Linked DNA regions of Homo sapiens: all the other regions are linked to region 3. The links come from fine-mapping of genetic effects on gene expression. A gene starts in region 3. Each other region holds a variant in brackets. All regions are shown on one strand. Distances are from middle to middle.

Region 1 (4,168 bases), 32 kb after region 3:
GAAGCCCCATCTCCACTAAAAATATACAAAAATTAGCCAGGCAGGGTGGTGTACCCCTGTAATCCCAGCTACTCGGGAGGCTGAGAAAGGAGAATCGCTTGAACCTGGGAGGAGGAGGTTGCAGTGAGCTGTGTTCGTGCCATCGCATTCTGCACTCCAGCCTGGGGGACAGAGTGAGACTCCATCTCAAAAAGACTGGTGGAATGCCTTCCTGTAGGGGAAAGTCTGACTTCTTTTTAAGAAAAAGAAAAAAAATATAAGGCAAGATTGTGACCCAGGATAAGAGTATCTGTCACACAGAAGGATCTGTCAAATGAGTGAAAATTTAAGATCTCTAGCATGTGAAATTCTAAGGTCTTCTGGATTGGTTTCATAGAAGAAGCACTTTATCCTTGCTCAACCAGTTAGTGTCATTTAGGTTCAAAATCATATATATTGCATACATTTATTACTAATGAAAGTCTCTTAGAATTCAACCTTATGGGACACAGAGTTACACGAGTCTTTTGTATATGTATTTCTTTTCTCTTTTTTTTTTTTTTTTTTTGAGATGGAGTCTTGCTCTCTCACCCAGGCTGGAGTGCAATGGTGCAATCTTGGCTCACTGCAACCTCTGCTTCCCAGGTTCAAGTGATTCTCCTGCCTCAGCCTCCTGAGTAGCTGGGATTTTTGGTGTGCACCACCACACCCGGCTAATTTTGTATTTTTAGTAAGGATGGGGGTTTCACCATGTTGGCCAAGCTGGTCTTGAACTCCTGACCTCATGATCCGCCCACCTCAGCCTCCCAAAGTGCTGGGATTACAGGTGTGAGCCACCACGCCTGGCCCTGTATATATATTTCTTAATGCTGAAAGCCTTCAGACTTAACTGTAAGACTAGAAGAGGATGTTGATGGACTTATAGTGAGTGAAGCAGAAGCAGCAGCAGTTAAATCAAACTCATCTTAAAGACCTCTAGTTAGTAATCTCATCCATGTCAATTTTTTTTTACACCAAATTTGCACAGTTAAAACCCACAGGTTCCATAAATTATGTGATAGAGACCATGTAATTAAAGTGGATGATCATGTTTTTTTGCTTTCCTTTAGGAAGAAAGTAGTATTTCTGGGTTTTGTTTACTGAACACCTAAATGGAATTTTTAAGGTGAATTGATATACCATTAGCAATCAGATGCAGACTTTTTTGGAGTTAAAAATAATGAAATGGAGTATTTCATGTTATAAAGAAATGAAAAAACCTTTAATATTTTCCAGATCTTATGTTCTCTCTCTCTATATATGTGTCCAATATATACATATATATATTCCAGATATTATATTTCTCTCCTTAGATATATATTGTCCAGTGAATCTACCAAATGAGCAAATTAAAAGGAGATGGTTTTATGTTTCAGTAGATGGGTGTCTACTGAGTAGGGTCTATATTTAAATAAAAATGGTTATAATGCAAAAAAGCATGGATTATATGGATTCTGAGGGAGATGTATGTATAGTGAGAACGTCTCTGTGGTTGCCCTTTATTACTGAAGAATTATATATAAGTGAACAATTTTACTTAAATGTGCTTATCTTTTATGCTTCCTCATCTTTTCTGCTCTGCAGAAATGATTTTAGACTCTAACCTCATATATTTTGCTACTGTTGTCCTGGAGCATGTTGACAACCTGTTGTTCTTAAACCAGAGATGCTTGTTACTTCTGTGTAACTCTCTTAGAAATCATAAACCAGTTGATGAAAGAGGCAGAAGTGGGATAAAATGGTAGAAGAAGGGAGACAAATTAGAGAGGAAATGTGAGAAACTGGCTGTTAAACAGAATTCCCAAGAAGAAAAAAAGGAATCTTTGTATTATTTTGAAAAAAAACTCCCACAGTTATCAAAAACCACCATCAACCTTAGCCAAAAATATGAAGTGACTGAATGCTTATATGAAATTTGTGAACTTTAAAGTAGTTTTTATCAATTCTGTGAAGAAAGTCATTGGTAGCTTGATGGGGATGGTATTGAATCTATAAATTACCTTGGGCAGTATGTCCATTTTCACCATATTGATTCTTCCTACCCAGAGCATGGAATGTTCTTCCATTTGTTTGTATCCTCTTTTATTTCAATGAACAGTGGTTTGTGAATATCCAAATAAACACAGTAAGAAATGACAAAGGGGACATTACCACCAACCCCAAGGAAATACAGAAATCCATCAGAGACTATTGTGAACACCTCTTTGCACACAAAGTAGAAAACCTAGAACAAATGGGTAAATTCCTGGAAATATACAACTCCCCAAGAGAGAACCAGGAAGAAACTCAAACCCTAAACATGCTAATAATGAATTCTTAAATGGGATCAATAATAAAAAGCCTACCAAAAGCCCAGGACCAGATTGATTCACAATTGAATTCTACCAAACATATAAGGAAGAGCTGGTACCATTCCTACTGAAACTATTCCAAAAATTGAGGAGAAGGGGCTCCTCCCTAACTCACTCTATGAGACCAGTGCCATCTTGATGCCC[A/C]AACCTGGCAGAGACACAATAAAAAAGAAAAGTTCAGGCCAATATCCTTGATAAACATAGATGCAAACATCCTCAACAAAATACTAGCCAACTGAATCCAGCAACGCATCAGAAAGCTCATTCACCATGATAAAGTAGGCTTTATCCCTGGGATACAAGTTTGGTTCAATATATGCAAATCAATAAATGTAATTCATCCATCTAAACAGAACAAAAAATAAAAACCACATGATCATCTCAATAGAGGTAGAAAAGGATTTTGATAAAATTCAGCATCCCTTCATGTTAAAAACCGCCAACAAACTGGCATTAAAGGAACATAACTCAAAATCATAACAGCAATCTATGACAAACCCACAGTCAACATCATACTGAACAGGCAAAAGCTGGAAGCATTCCCCTTGAGAACTGGAGCAAGACAAGGATGCCCATTCTCACCACTCCTATTCAATATACTACCGGAAGTCCTAGCCAGAGCAATCAGGCAAGAGAAAGGAACAAAAGGTATCCTAAAATAAGAAGAGATGAAGTCAAATTTATCTCTGTTTGCAGATGATATGATTTTATACCTAGAAAACTCCATAGTATCTCCCCAAAAGCTCCTAGGTATGATAAACAACTTCAGCAGGGTTTTTGGATATAAAATCAATTTACAAAAATAATAAGCATTTCTATACACCAATAGTGTTCAAGCTGAGTGCCAAATCTAGAACACAATCACATTCATAATAGCCACACACACAGAACATAAAATACCTAGGAATACAGCTAAGCAGGGCCCGCAGCACCTGGGATGTGGAAGCCTCAGAGGAGTCAAGGCCTGGGTCTCTCTATGAGCAGCAAAATGAAAACAACACTTTAGCTGGTTTCCAGTGCACCCATAATCTCCCTATAGTGCACTTTAGAGACAATTTTAAAGTGATTTAACTCACAGAATTGTCTATATAATATTTTTAAGGTATACACTTTTAAACATGTTATTCACATTATAGAAAAGTGTATAATGAGAGAAATAGTTCCCATAATGTATCAACTTCTGGGCTAAAAATTCTTTAGATAAAATCCAATATCCATTTTCTATCCACGTACCCCTATGTAAATATATACTTTACTGAGGAACCTTAGAAGGAAAGTGGGAAGATGGTTCATGTTCTTGAATAGAAAGAATTTTCTCAAGATGTGAGCTCTTTCTGTATTTATCAATTTTGCCTAAACCAAATAAAAACACCAAAGTTTTAACGTTTAAAAATTACACTTGCTGTCTTTTACTGTTATGATGACATTAAAATTTTTTTGTAATGCAACGAAAAATGACTTGCCTTCCTCGATATCAAAATGTGCCATTAATTTCTATAAGTCATTTACTAACAGCTGAAAGACATAAATGAATGGAACAGACTAGAAAATCCAGAAACACCCATATATATGAAATAATTTAGAACTTGATAATGGTGACATTTCATATTAGTAGAAAAAGATGAATTATTCATAAATGGAATGCCTGCTGTTTGGAGAAAACTAGCTGATTTTTATGTCACAAAAATAGGTTCCTGGTGGAATATAGATTAAAAATTTTAAATATACAAAATGAGAAAACTACCAGAAGAAAACACAAATGCCTATTTATACAGATACTTTTTTTTTTTTTTTTGAGA
Region 2 (4,168 bases), 46 kb after region 3:
AACCAGTGACAAGATGGCAAACGGCACAGGCAATGGCCTAAACCTCCAGGAGTTTCTGGAAACAGCCACTTCCCTTCCTTTGTTACTCTGTCATTTCTAGTTTGTCCCTTCACAGAAATAAGAGACACTTTAGCAGTAGAATTTGGAAGAAGCCTCAGACCATGTCCTTTAGGATGGAAGGGTGTGGTCAAAGAACAGAAGATGACATCAGAGGAAAGATGATGCTGGTTGGAGTTGAGGAACCAGCAGGAAAGGTCAGGAGAGGAAGGGGAGCCCAACCCCAGTGCAAGGGTCTGTTTGGGTTCAGATGATGGTAGCATAGAGCACAGACTTGGGAGTCTTACGGGTTGGGAGTTTAAACCAGGCTCTGCCACATAAAACATGCTTTTTTTTTTTTTTGAGATGCAGTCTTGCTCTGTCACCAGGCTTTAGTGCAGTGGCACGATCACAGCTCACTGCAACTTCCAACTCCCTGGTTCAAGTGATTCTCCCGCCTCAGCCTCCCGAGTAGTTGGGATTACAGGCAGGTGCCACCATGCCCAGCTAATTTTTGTGTTTTTAGTAGAGATGGGGTTTCACCATGTTGGCCAGGATGGTCTTGATCTCCTGACCTCGTGATCTGCCCACCTCAGCCTCCCAAAGTGCTGGGATTACAGGTGTGAACCACCGTGCCCAGCCTAAAACATGCCATTCTTTTACTTCTCTGAATCTCAGCCCCCTCACCTTTAATACAGAATTGTGTTACCTCCATCTCACAGAATGCCAATGGGAGGGTCAGATGAGTTAATATATGTAAACCCCTTTGCTCAGTACATGGCAGATGGTAATCTCTTATTTCTATAATAATTGCTCTTTTCATAATAAGACTCAGAGTCTGTGATGTTTGCTTAGGACACTTGGCAGGGAAAAGGGTGCCTATACAGGGAATCCAGAGGGAGTGAGGGGCATAGAAGCCATAGACAGATATTCCCAATTCTAATGGGTGGGATGGAGGTATAATAAGTGTAAGCAAGTGGATTTGGTATCCAAAGGGTCAGAAAGGAGGAACTGTGACAGAGAATAGCCATGACCTTGAGTTGAATGACTGCCAGGGTTACACCAGGCCAGACAAGTTCTAAACAGAAGCCAAAAACCAGGTTGGGATTCCCCTAGTCTGAACCACAGGTCAAGGTCAGACACTGGAGAGACATTGTCAAGTATCTAGCAGCAGAACAGAGCTGGAAGAAAATAGAGCCAGAAAAGGCATTGAGGGTATGAGTATCAAACCTAAGCTCTTTGAAAACTGCAAGGAACAAGATGAGAGACTGAATGGTGGAAGAAGGGGGCAAGGTGTCCACTCTTTTGGCCAAAAGATAGTACAGACCATTGATAAACCACAAAAGATAGTACAGACGATTGATAAACCATGTGGAACCCTAGCCGCACCACCTGCTAGCTTTATGAACTTTGGCAAGATGCTTAAACTCTCTGGCCTTTAGAGTCATAGTCTATTAACTGGGGATATAAAGGTAATAATACTACCTAACATGGAGAGTTGTGTGGAGATTCAAGGAGGGAATACACATTTGAAAGTGCCTGGAACATAGCCAGAGACCAATTAAGTGTTAGCTGTTGCTGTTATTTGATGAGCTCCAGCTCTAGGATTTTTAGAATAGGGTTGAAGAGAGTACCTGAAGTTTCCAATGTGTACATCACAACTCACTAGCGTAACAAAGCAGAGGGAATGGAGAGCAGGAGCCCCAGCTGAGAAACAGGAGCATGCTAGAGAAGAAGGCTACCTGGAATAGATTGTTAGTGAAGAAAGGCAGCGGGAAGGAGATGAGAAGCCAGGCCAAGCTGAGAAGAGGGTATCCACATCTGTGCTATTGCCAGAATCTTGGGGAGGATCGCCATGGAATCCAAATATCTGCATGCACATGCACGCACAGGCGCACACACACACACACACACACACACACACACACAAAACCTACAGTCATATTCCAGAATTGTTCCTTTCTTATTCTTTCAGAAACAATGAATATGGATCTGCAATGCTTCAGGGCCCTATGCTGGGCACTGTTGCCCAGGACTGATGTTGTTCCTTCCTCACAGAACGTATGGTCCAGTGGAGGAGAGGAGGCTTCCTGAAGGAGGCAGGATCCTGGCACTGAATAGGAGTCTGCTGCAGAGGAAGCCAGTGAGAGGAGTGTGGGATGGGAAGGTTTGGAGTATCTAGAAAAGGGAGTATAAGAAAGGCAAAGGGACAGCATGTGCAGAAGGCCAAAGGTGTAGAGGCAGCATGTCACATTGAAGAGGGTCAGGGTGCCAGCACCAGAAGAAGAGGAATGGGAAATGGGCACCAAAGGAGCAGGTGCTTTTATACTTACTGGTAAGGACACTGAAGCCCAGGGTACATAACCTGCCAAGGTCAATCATCAAGTAAATGGCAATACTGGAATTCAAACCCAAATAGAACACTCTCTGAAATCCCTGTTCTTATTCATTGCTGCCTGGACCTGCTGGGTATACCAAGGGCAAGCAGCCCCTGTCCAGAACAGCAGAAGGCAGGGGTCTCCACAGCTGCC[G/A]ACACATTATTCTCCCTACCTAGGAAGGGTATTTGGGTGGGAGACTGGGCAGCCATTGGGGAGGCTATTAGGGAACCTCTAAGGAAAGTTTGAATAATTTTTTATCTTCCTTGTCTGGATAAAGTACAGTCTTGAAAACTGAAAAACCTTTGGATCAGAAATTTGAACTTGGTGCTGTCTTTCCTAAGGTGTCAGGAAAGATGAAAATAAAAGTAAAAATTATTTCTACAAACGAGAAGGCTTAAGGAAGATAGTTCATGCCAAATCATCAGCAAGTATGAAATCCTGACTTTAACACACCTGCTGTTTGTCATAAATTCCCTCTCACTGATGCCCACTCAACTTTTACGTATGGCACTCAATGTCAATCATCCCCACCTGGGCAGGATAGGCAAGGGAAGCAGGAGATCATGTCCGCGATGGTTACTGCTGTGGCCCCAGAAGAATCTCTGCCTCACGGCTCTTGCCCACTCTTCTCTGATTACCCTCTTCGTCTTCTTCAGTAGATGTCATTGTGTCAATTGATGTCCAACCACTGCTAGAAGTAACTTCATTTTTGTAGGACCTGGACAGCCTTGAAGATGGTGAAGTAGCCTAGTTTCAGTCTTTCTGGAATGAATTTAGGTTGATTTATGGTCATTTTGGTAACTTTTCACTTTATTTCTTCCTTTCTGTATCTTTTCTGACAGTTTTGTTGGCATGGGGTTTAATCATTAAATTCAAGTACCAATGAAAGGCTATTTTAACAAAGGCTTGGGCACTTTACTAAGAATATCATCATTCTTTCCTTCTTTCTTTCCTTTCTCTTTTCCTTCCCCTTGCCTTCTTCTCTTCTACCCTCCTCCTTCTCTTTCCTTCTCCCTCCCTTCTTTCTTTAAACACACATAGGGCACTCTCTAAGATGCCAAATTGCATGTTGGATGTGGGGGGGTGTAGTCTTTTTTTTTTTTTTTTTTGGAGACGGAGTCTTGCTCTGTCGCCCAGGCTGGAGTGCAGTGGCACAATCTCGGCTCACCGCAAGCTCTGCCTCCCGGGTTCACGCCATTCTCCTGCCTCAGCCTCCCGAGTAGCTGGGACTACAGGCGCCCGCCACCACGCCTGGCTAATTTTTTTTTTTTTTTTTGGTAGAGACGGAGTTTCACCATGTTAGCCAGGATGGTCTCGATCTCCTGACCTTGTGATCCGCCCATCTCAGCCTCCCAAAGTTCTGGGATTACAGGCATGAGCCACCGTGCCCGGCCAAGAAGGTGTAGTCTTATATGTATGAGAGACAGTCTTTGCCCTTCAGTTGTTCATAGCTTTAGAGAGGGGAAAAAGCAGGTAAAAAAATAAATATTTGTTGTCAATTGAAATGTAGTCCTGTGTGGTAAACCACTGGCCTTCAACAACTATGTCTTCTCATATTTTCAGGTCTATGAGAATATTCCAGCTTGGAATATTTTAGGACAAGAATACTCTAGGGCTGAACTCAGCTAGTCACTCCTGTTTTACATGACCAATAAGCTGGTTTGGCTCCAGGCTGAGAGCTTGGTTCATGTCTGTTCCCTGTGGATTCATTCTGCAGCCAGGCTAAAGGATCAGCAACTACTCAGGGCATTCTG
Region 3 (4,168 bases):
ACTGTGTTACTGGGAGATTATAATAATAATTAGTGAATCGTGTATTACCATCATCGTCAGGTATTCGTAATCTCAATGATAATAAGTAACACCCATGCCACCACTGTGTGCCAGCCACTATTCTAAGTGCTTTACTTGTGTCCATTGGGTCATTTAAGCCCTCATGATGCCCTTGTGTAGTGGGAACACCTAGAAGAGCGCAGTGATTCCTGCACATGCGGGAGGCAGGCTTGGGGAGCAGGGGTGCCCTCGCCACCCAGCCTTCCGCATGTGAGGCCCTCCGCACTGTACACGGTTCAGAACCCACCCAGTCGCATGATGTCATATATCACATGGGTATTATGTTTACATTTGTTACACACATTCTTATATTGTATAATTATATATTTTACATTTATTATGCATTTCTTAGTTTCTTATATACAATGTTTCTACATGTGTGTAAATTACTTAGGTTTATAATTATCTGTTACTTTTTTTTTTTTTTTTTTTGAGATGGAGTCTCGCTCTGTTGCCCAGGCTGGACTGCAGTGGCGCGATCTCGGCTCACTGCAAGCTCCGCCTCCCGGGTTCACGCCATTCTCCTGCCTCAGCCACCCGAGTAGCTGGGACTACAGGCGCCCGCCACCACGCCCAGCTAATTTTTTGTGTGTTTAGTAGAGACGGGGTTTCACCGTGTTAGCCAGGATGGTGTGGATCTCCTGACCTCGTGATCCGCCCGCCTCGGCCTCCCAAAGTGCTGGGATTATAGGCGTGAGCCACCGTGCCCGGCCATCTGTTACATATTTTATATCTACTTATGAATTTATCAAATAACTTTGGTCATTTTATAAATTATAATCTTTGTTATATTCATTTGTTGTATTGTTTTATGCAGTTATGCAATGTTTATTGTATAAACGGTCATTTATAATACTTTTATATATTTGTCATATTTCTAAACTTGATACATGTCACCATATATCAGTTTATGCGTTTGTATGGTATGTTTCTATGTCTGGTACATAAGCGATTACACTTTAAACACGTCATCAACTGTAATGTACAGTGCCTAGCATTCTGCGTGAGCCTTCCTAATGCTGGGCTTGCACTACCTGTATTGTAACGTTTAGATTTTTTGTTTGGTTTTGTTTTGTTTGAGATGGGATCTCACTCTGTGGCCCAGGCTGGAGTGCAGTGGCACCATCTCAGCTGTGCAGTGGAACCATCTCAGCTCACTGCAACCTCTGCCTCCCAGGTTCAAGCGAGTCCCCTGTCTCTGCTCCCTAGTAGCTGGGATTACAGGCATGCGCCCATGCCCAGTTGATTTTTGTATTTTTAGTAGAGACGGGGTTTCGCTGTGTTGCCCAGGCTGGTCTCGAACTCCTGAGCTCAAGCGATCCTCCCACCTCGGCCTCCCAAAGTGCTGGGATTACAGGTGTGAGCCACCGCACCTGGCCCACGTTTAGAATCTTTATAGGCAGTGACGAACGCCCCTACGAAGTGTGCGCCCAATATGTACTAAGTGCTTTTCACCCACATCATTTAATCCTTAGACCAGTTTGGTCATTCATGTCCCCATTTCACCAAGGGAGAAGCCGAGGTCAGAGGGGCCAGGTAGACCGCCTGGACCACACGCGGATGGCCGGGACGCGGATTCGGGACGGGAAGCGGATTCGGGCCCGGACGCGGATTCGAGCCCGGCGTTCACACCCTCACCACGCCACAGCCTCCGTGTTCCTCTTCGCCCTGCTGCAGCCCCTTCCTTCCTGTGGTCACAGGGGACAGTCAGGTCGCCAGAAGCGGCGGGGCCGGGGCTGTCCAGCGCAGCAGGGCCGCCCGCCCTCCCCTGCGGCGCCCGCCCCACCTGTCCCGCCCGCAGCCAGGTTGTTCCGGGAGCGCGACGAGGACACCGGGAACGAGGGTGTGCACGGTCCGTCCCGGCCTGGCCGTGGACGTCGCGCTCCGGGGCCGGGGGGCAGAGAGTGAAGACGGAGACAGCAAGAGCGACAGAGAAGTGCTGGGGAGAGAAACACGGAGAGACCCCCCGAGGCGGGGAGACACCGGGGACACCGAGACAGAAAGGCAGAGCCCGCCGTGCGCGGAGGACAGGCGTACGCAGGGCCAGGGCCGGGGCGCGCCGCTCGCGGACCCCGTGTGCCACTCACGCTGAACTCGCCGGCGAGGACTGCCCCCTCCCGGCCGCCCCGCGCTTCCAGCCGCTCCAGGAAGCTCCGCGCCGAGTCCAGGCTGCGGCTCATGGCGCCGCGGGCCAGCAAGGTCCAGCCCGGCCGCCGCGCGCGCGGCGAGTGTGGACGCCGCGGGAGGCGGAGGCCGGTGACTGAGTCCCCGCCCTTGCCTCGGCAGCCAATGGAAGCGCGCAGCGGCGGGCAGGGCGCCCCAGCCACCGTGTTCTGAGCCCGCGTAGCCCCACCCCGGGCGCTCGGGCCGCTGTGGCCGGAGCCCTAGGTCCTCGCGGGCTGCCCTGAGCAGAGTCCAGCGCCGGCGCTTCCCCTTTTTTTCGGCTGCCGCGCCCACTGGTGGGGGGGTGGCACGGTCCCAGGTTCGCTCCCTGCCGCTTGGGACCCGCCCTCAGATCGGGATCCGCGCCCAGGGGCCGACCTCCGGGTGCCGGCTCTGGGTGGACGGCCGAGCGGTCTCGCCGGGCCCTCCCGCCCGTCCCCTGGGAGCCAGGCCGCGCGGAGTCCGAGCTGGGGCGGGCAGCAGCCTTGGGTGGAGACGGTCGCCGAGATCAGGCTGCCCCTCGTGCCAGAGGACCCCGGGTCGGGGGCGTCCCGCGCTGTGCGCTCCAGCCGGGCCCAAGGGAGGCCGGGGAGGGGCAGCCACGCCGTGGGAAAGGCCAAGTGGCAGCGGGATCTTCTCTGTGTATTTCCCGAGGAATTTGTGGTTCCTTTTTCCCGGATGCGCTGGGGCACCAGGGTCAGTCCTGTGTGAGCATCTCGACCTGCACAAGCCTGCTGGGAAACAGAACTGAGGCACTGGAAGTGGGTTCTGGGGAACGAAGAGCTTCTCTTTTTTGCCTGCCCTGACACTCCCATCTTCAGAAAGTGTGCAGAGGTCAGAGGAGAGCCGCCGTTCCAGCTTCCGGGATCACCGAGGGGAGGCTGGAGAGAATGGACTGGCACCTGGGTCTCTTCAAGGACAGGCCTAGGTTAGCCCCCTTCTCGCCGAGGTCGGAAGAATTAAGAGGGGTGTCACTGGAAGGGGCGTCAGTGGACACCAGTTTGAGGTCGTTGAGGGGTTGAAAGGTAGCATTGGGGCCTGGATGTGTGCCTGAGTCTCTGAAGGGTCAACAGGGGCATGATGTCAGGTGGTCAATTTAATTCACTAGGGGCTATCAGAGTATTTAAGGGCACACTTTCTTAAAGGTCCCGGTAGGAAGTGGTTTTGGCTTTGCTATCGCTGCCCCAGCTGCTTAACTCAGCTGTGGCAGCATGAAAGCAGACAATATAGTGTGGCTGTGTCCCAAAGAAACCATTTATGGACAAAGAAATCAGAATTTCATGTAATGTTCATGTGTCATGAATTATTCTAGTGTGTGTGTGTGGCCTACAGGCTGTCGTTTGCTGACCTTGGCTGAAGTGATGGAGCGATCAAAGTGGCTCTGTGGGGATCAGCAGCTAGGGCTGTTTGATTTATCGTGGGGTCCGCAGGGGTCACTGTGAGATTCATGTTCATCATTTATCAGTTTCATCTTTGAGCATTCTCAGGGAGGTAATTGTTTAGGATGGTGGTGATAGGGAATTCATTGGAAGCCAGTCGGGGTCCCTTGGATGTTCATGGGGGGGGGGGTGTCAGTAGATATTAATGACAGTCATTGGGAGGCCAGTGGATACTTGGGACAAGAAGTGAAAGTAATTGTGGGGCCATTGGGATTTGGAGTGTTAGTAATTGAAGGGTCCGAAGAGTCTGGGAAGTCATTGAGAGCTCTGCTCAGTGCATGATAGTGACTCTCAGTATAATCATTGAGGGTTTGTGGATGGCCATGGAGATCCAGGGAGGTAGAATACAGAAGCATCAGTAAGCTTTCAGAAAATAAAGACATTTTCTGGGAAAATGTGAGCCCCTGAGCACACATGGTTATTCAGGGCAGTCTTTATGGGCTAGAGGATCTCTGTCCAGCAGCAGGGATCCTGTTGAGGGCCTGTCCTCATAGGCTGAGGTCTGT
Region 4 (4,168 bases), 98 kb after region 3:
TAGGAAACCGCTTCCACCTGGGTAAACAGTGGAGGACATTTCTGGGTTCAGATAACTTAAAGGATGAGAAGCAGAGCAGGTTTAGGGTCAGTTCGACCAGTGGTTCCACAGTATCACTGAGACCTCAGTTTCTTTGAATTTTGTGATTCTGCTTGCCTTGGTGTTGACTTCATCCTGAGCCTGGCTTCCTGGAGCATGGGCATATGGCTGCAGCAGGTTCAGTCTTACATGCCAAACACTTCCTGTTTCCCATTGTAAAACCCCCTTTCCCATACCCCTCCCCTTAAGTCGCATTGGCCCAAACTGAGCCCCATGTTCAAAGCTAAACCAATCCCTTTGTCCAGGACTTTGCCAACTTTTCATCAGGTTAAGCCTGGATCATTTGAACCAGTGACTATGGGCAGGGGAGACAAATTGAACCCATCAGGGTCCACACCTGGAGCTGAGGTCAGATTTGCTCCATACCACCCCCATGCCCCACATTGTAAGGTGACAGCACAGTGGTCAGGGCTGGAAAGGAAGGGGTCAACCGTGGCATCCACTATAGCCTTGAAGCAGGATTCTGGGCAGCTGTCATTGGGAGTTTGCATATATGGGAGGAGTTAGAGATGAAGGGAGTTCTCCTGGGGAAGCCTCCCTGCTGTGATTGTCAGTGTTGGCCCCACGCTCGTGGACAGCATCCAACTGTCAACTTCACACATGGTCCCTCATTGCTGTCCTAATATCTGGGGGGGTCTCCTTTAACACTCCTTGTTAGAGAATATGGATCATTTTTTTTTCCTTAGAAACCATTTCTTTTTTTTCATCACTGACAATTGCCAACATACAAAGAAGAAAAGAGAAGCAACAACATTCCCGCACATACTCACAAATGGGTGTTTTAAAAAGTAGTGATTCTGAACCTTTGGGGTCAGGTCATAGATCCTTTGGGAAACCTAAGGAAAGCCGTGGGCTGTCTCTAGAAAAACATGCATGCAGGTGCCTTCCTGTGTGATTTCAGAAAGCCAAGCTGCAGAGCGCACGTTGTACCCAGTGGGGGACTTGGAGGAGGTTGTTGTTTTTGTTTTCTTTGTAGGCAGTGAGGCAAGTCCAGGAACTGGATTGCATTCACAAAGGAGGAGGGTTGAGGAGGGTACAAGTCCAGTTATTATAATGAAGTAATTTTTAATCTGATCACTGACAGTGACTGTTTCACTCTGCCAGGAGTGTTCAGAAGTAGCTCCCTGAGGATGGTGGTGTGTCCACCTTCTTTCTCAGCACAGGCCTTGGCACAATTTTTTTTTAACTTTCTTCTTGCAACAAGCATATATTGAGTTCTTTGTGTTTATGTTCCAGGATTGTGGTGGTCTTGGCTTACTAAGGTGTTAGACGGTCCCTTCATGTTTCTGGTCACGAGTTCTCTGAATCCACTTTAATTGTATTTTGCTTTGAAATCAGGATTTGGATAATGAGCCAGCATTGACCCCTTTTCTCTGTAGCATGAAAGTTCTGAGGTCTTAGTGCCCTGTTGTTTTCCTGGAACCCCTTCTTTGTCTGTGTCTGTTTGTTTCTCTCTGTCTCTGTGTCTTTCTGTCTCTCTCTCTCATGCCTCTCAGTTCGGCATGTTACCATCTTGGCTCCACACAAAGCCACTTTCTCTCCCCCTCCCTCCCTCTCTGTCTCTCTTCCTCCTTCCTCTGTATCTGTTCCCCTCACCCTTTCTAATGTGTATCTGTATATGCTCTATCTGTTTGTATTTTTGTAAGATATAATTTCAAGTGACAAAAAGGTAATGCTCAAATCTCATCTGTATCACATAACGGAGGGAAAGTGCCTGCCTGGAATAACATCCTATACCTCCACAACTCAGCATGCCTTCCTTGACCTGGGTTCATATTAAAAGAAATGACAACAGTTTTCTTAAAAATGACTTTAGCCAGTCAAACAGGATTCTGTTCTGAAGGACCTTCCTCTAAAGGCAGACCTGAAGTCTGTGGAGTGGCCTGGTAAGAATTTTCTGTGTCTTCAGTAAAGACAAATGCACTATCTAGTGGGGAATTTAGTGAGATAAATAGCAAAGTTAAGAATAATGGCACAGAATAGGAAGGACTGAAGCAGAAGCTATTAGGCAATGGAATCCATGAATAAATAGGAACCATCCCATGAAGGGTGAGCAAGTAGTCGAAAGAAGTTAGCATGAGTAGAAGAAAAGGAGAATAAGAGTAAGATGGAGC[T/C]GGGGCAGCTCCCATTTATTCTTCTCAGTGAAGGAATACTGCCAAGGGCAGCTGCCTGTTAAGTGTTGCTGTGGAAACACTTAACAAATGGAAACTTGACAAGAAGTATGTAACATGTTCCTGAAGTACAAGAAGCTTCTAATACTGAGCAAGAAAATGATACATGTCAACTGTAAGGATGCCAAAACAAAATGAGTGGTTACCAACGAGTAATTTCACTCTCACGTACCATTTGACAATAGTTAGAGACATTTTTGGTGGTCACAAAAGGGTGCTGCTACTGGTGGACTGCTGTGTAGTGAGTGGAGGCTGGAGATGCTGCCACAATTCTACAATGCACTGGATAGCTGCCTAGCGACAGAATCATTCAGCCCCAACATCAAGAGTGCCAAGGTTGAGAAACACTTACCTAAACCACGACACGTTGGTTCAAAACAAATTAACCTTTCTTTCTAATTCTGACATATTTCAAATCAATTCTTAGCCCTTTAAACTATGTGCTTCTACTATGAATATCACTAGTCATTATAATTGAAAACATCTGAAGTTAAGTACATAAACTTCTACAATTTAAAGTTATTATTTTGTTTTGAAAGATTCCACTCCTTATACAAGAAAAGGAATATGTTGAAAGGTTCTCTGAGTTGTATTATTGCAGTGTTGCTGATGTAAGTAAAAGGAATCGGCAGAAATGGATATTTTCAGACAATAGGGAAATAATGAAAGTGATGAAATTGCAGAGTCAAATCTGTTACCTTTATAAAGCAAAATGTCCAAAGCCCATTGCCCTGTAGCCCTAGTCCATCTAAATGTGCGTATTTCGGCCTTCTGCAGACTTAATATACTTATTCAATAGCTGACTCTAGGCAGGTAAGTGCTCAATAATGTGGCCATGTTAGAGTTACACATGGACGGGTAAATGTTTACCTAGTGTGATTTCAACTTCAGAGAGAAAAAAATATATTCTTCACTGACAAAGGGGAAATGATTGCCTTGTCTTTTCAAAGTCATTAGATTCTACCATTAGATACAGAAAAATCCTAGGCAGGGTAACATACAGATTGAGCATCTTAATCCAAAATACTGAAATCTGAAATGCTCCAACATCTGAAACTTTTTGAGTGCTGACATGATGCCATAAGTGGAAAATTCCACACCTGACCTTAGGTGATGGGTCACAGTCAAAATGCAGTCAGATTTGTTTTTATGCGTAAAATTATTTAAAATATTTTATCTAATTAGTTTTAGGCTATTTGTATAAGGTGTATACAAAACATAAATGAACTTTCTGTTTAGACTTGGATTACATCCCCAACATATCTGATTATGTATATGCAAATATTTCAAAGTCTTAAAAAAAAAAAACCCAAATCCACAATACTTCTGGTCCCAAGGTAAGGGGATCCTTAGCCTGTATTAAATTTTAATAGCTGTTACCATTTTAATAGGAATTAATCTTAGAATTTTTAGAGATTTAACAGAGGTTTAAAATTCTTGTTGTTTTTAGGGTGGAGAAGAGAGCAGTTTAGAACAGAGGGCTGAGACTTCAGTAGGGAGCTTTCACAAGGCAGGGGCAAACCATGAACAACATGAAGCTTTGAGGAAAGCATAACACATCGAATGCTTCATAATTGAACTAAGTTTCTCCTAAATAGTTTACATTTATTTATCAATAATGTTATTTTTATTTTCCTTAAAAAATCTAGTAAGGTTGCTATGACAATTTTACATGTGTGGAAACTGAGGCCTGATTAGGAGTTCATCAATGTGCCCAGGGTCACATAGTGAGCAGATGGCAGAATGGGGTTTTGAATTGAGTTGTGACTGACCAGACAGAATGTACTTTAAAAAAATTGTCCCTCAAAATCCTTTCATGAAGATTATGTGAACGAACATTTAATGACTGGCCATAAAGTAAGGAAAACTACCATTACTTGATGATTTCTCTGCTAAAT

What was found. PIP is the estimated chance that this variant, and not a neighbour inherited with it, causes the effect. A credible set is the group of variants that fine-mapping cannot tell apart.
Region 1: its variant is the best candidate, but not a certain one, in a credible set for the expression of PTPN18 in whole blood (TOPMed, PIP 0.76).
Region 2: its variant is the best candidate, but not a certain one, in a credible set for the expression of PTPN18 in cerebellar hemisphere (GTEx, PIP 0.56).
Region 4: its variant is the best candidate, but not a certain one, in a credible set for the expression of PTPN18 in transverse colon (GTEx, PIP 0.87).

The regions. Positions count from the first base shown.
Region 1 is chr2:130,322,171-130,326,338 of GRCh38, reverse strand. No RefSeq gene overlaps it. Among named protein-coding and RNA genes, the nearest start is that of TRE-TTC1-1, 13 kb to the left of the region's middle. The variant A/C (reference allele first, on the strand shown) is at 2,514.
Region 2 is chr2:130,308,044-130,312,211 of GRCh38, reverse strand. No RefSeq gene overlaps it. Among named protein-coding and RNA genes, the nearest start is that of TRE-TTC1-1, 27 kb to the left of the region's middle. The variant G/A (reference allele first, on the strand shown) is at 2,568.
Region 3 is chr2:130,354,180-130,358,347 of GRCh38, reverse strand. It overlaps PTPN18 (protein tyrosine phosphatase non-receptor type 18), which reads right to left and starts at 2,292. Exons shown (of 15, transcript NM_014369.4): 1 at 2,148-2,292. The coding sequence starts at 2,240. RefSeq lists silencers at 1,853-1,902, 2,043-2,712.
Region 4 is chr2:130,256,639-130,260,806 of GRCh38, reverse strand. No RefSeq gene overlaps it. Among named protein-coding and RNA genes, the nearest start is that of TUBA3E, 60 kb to the right of the region's middle. The variant T/C (reference allele first, on the strand shown) is at 2,214.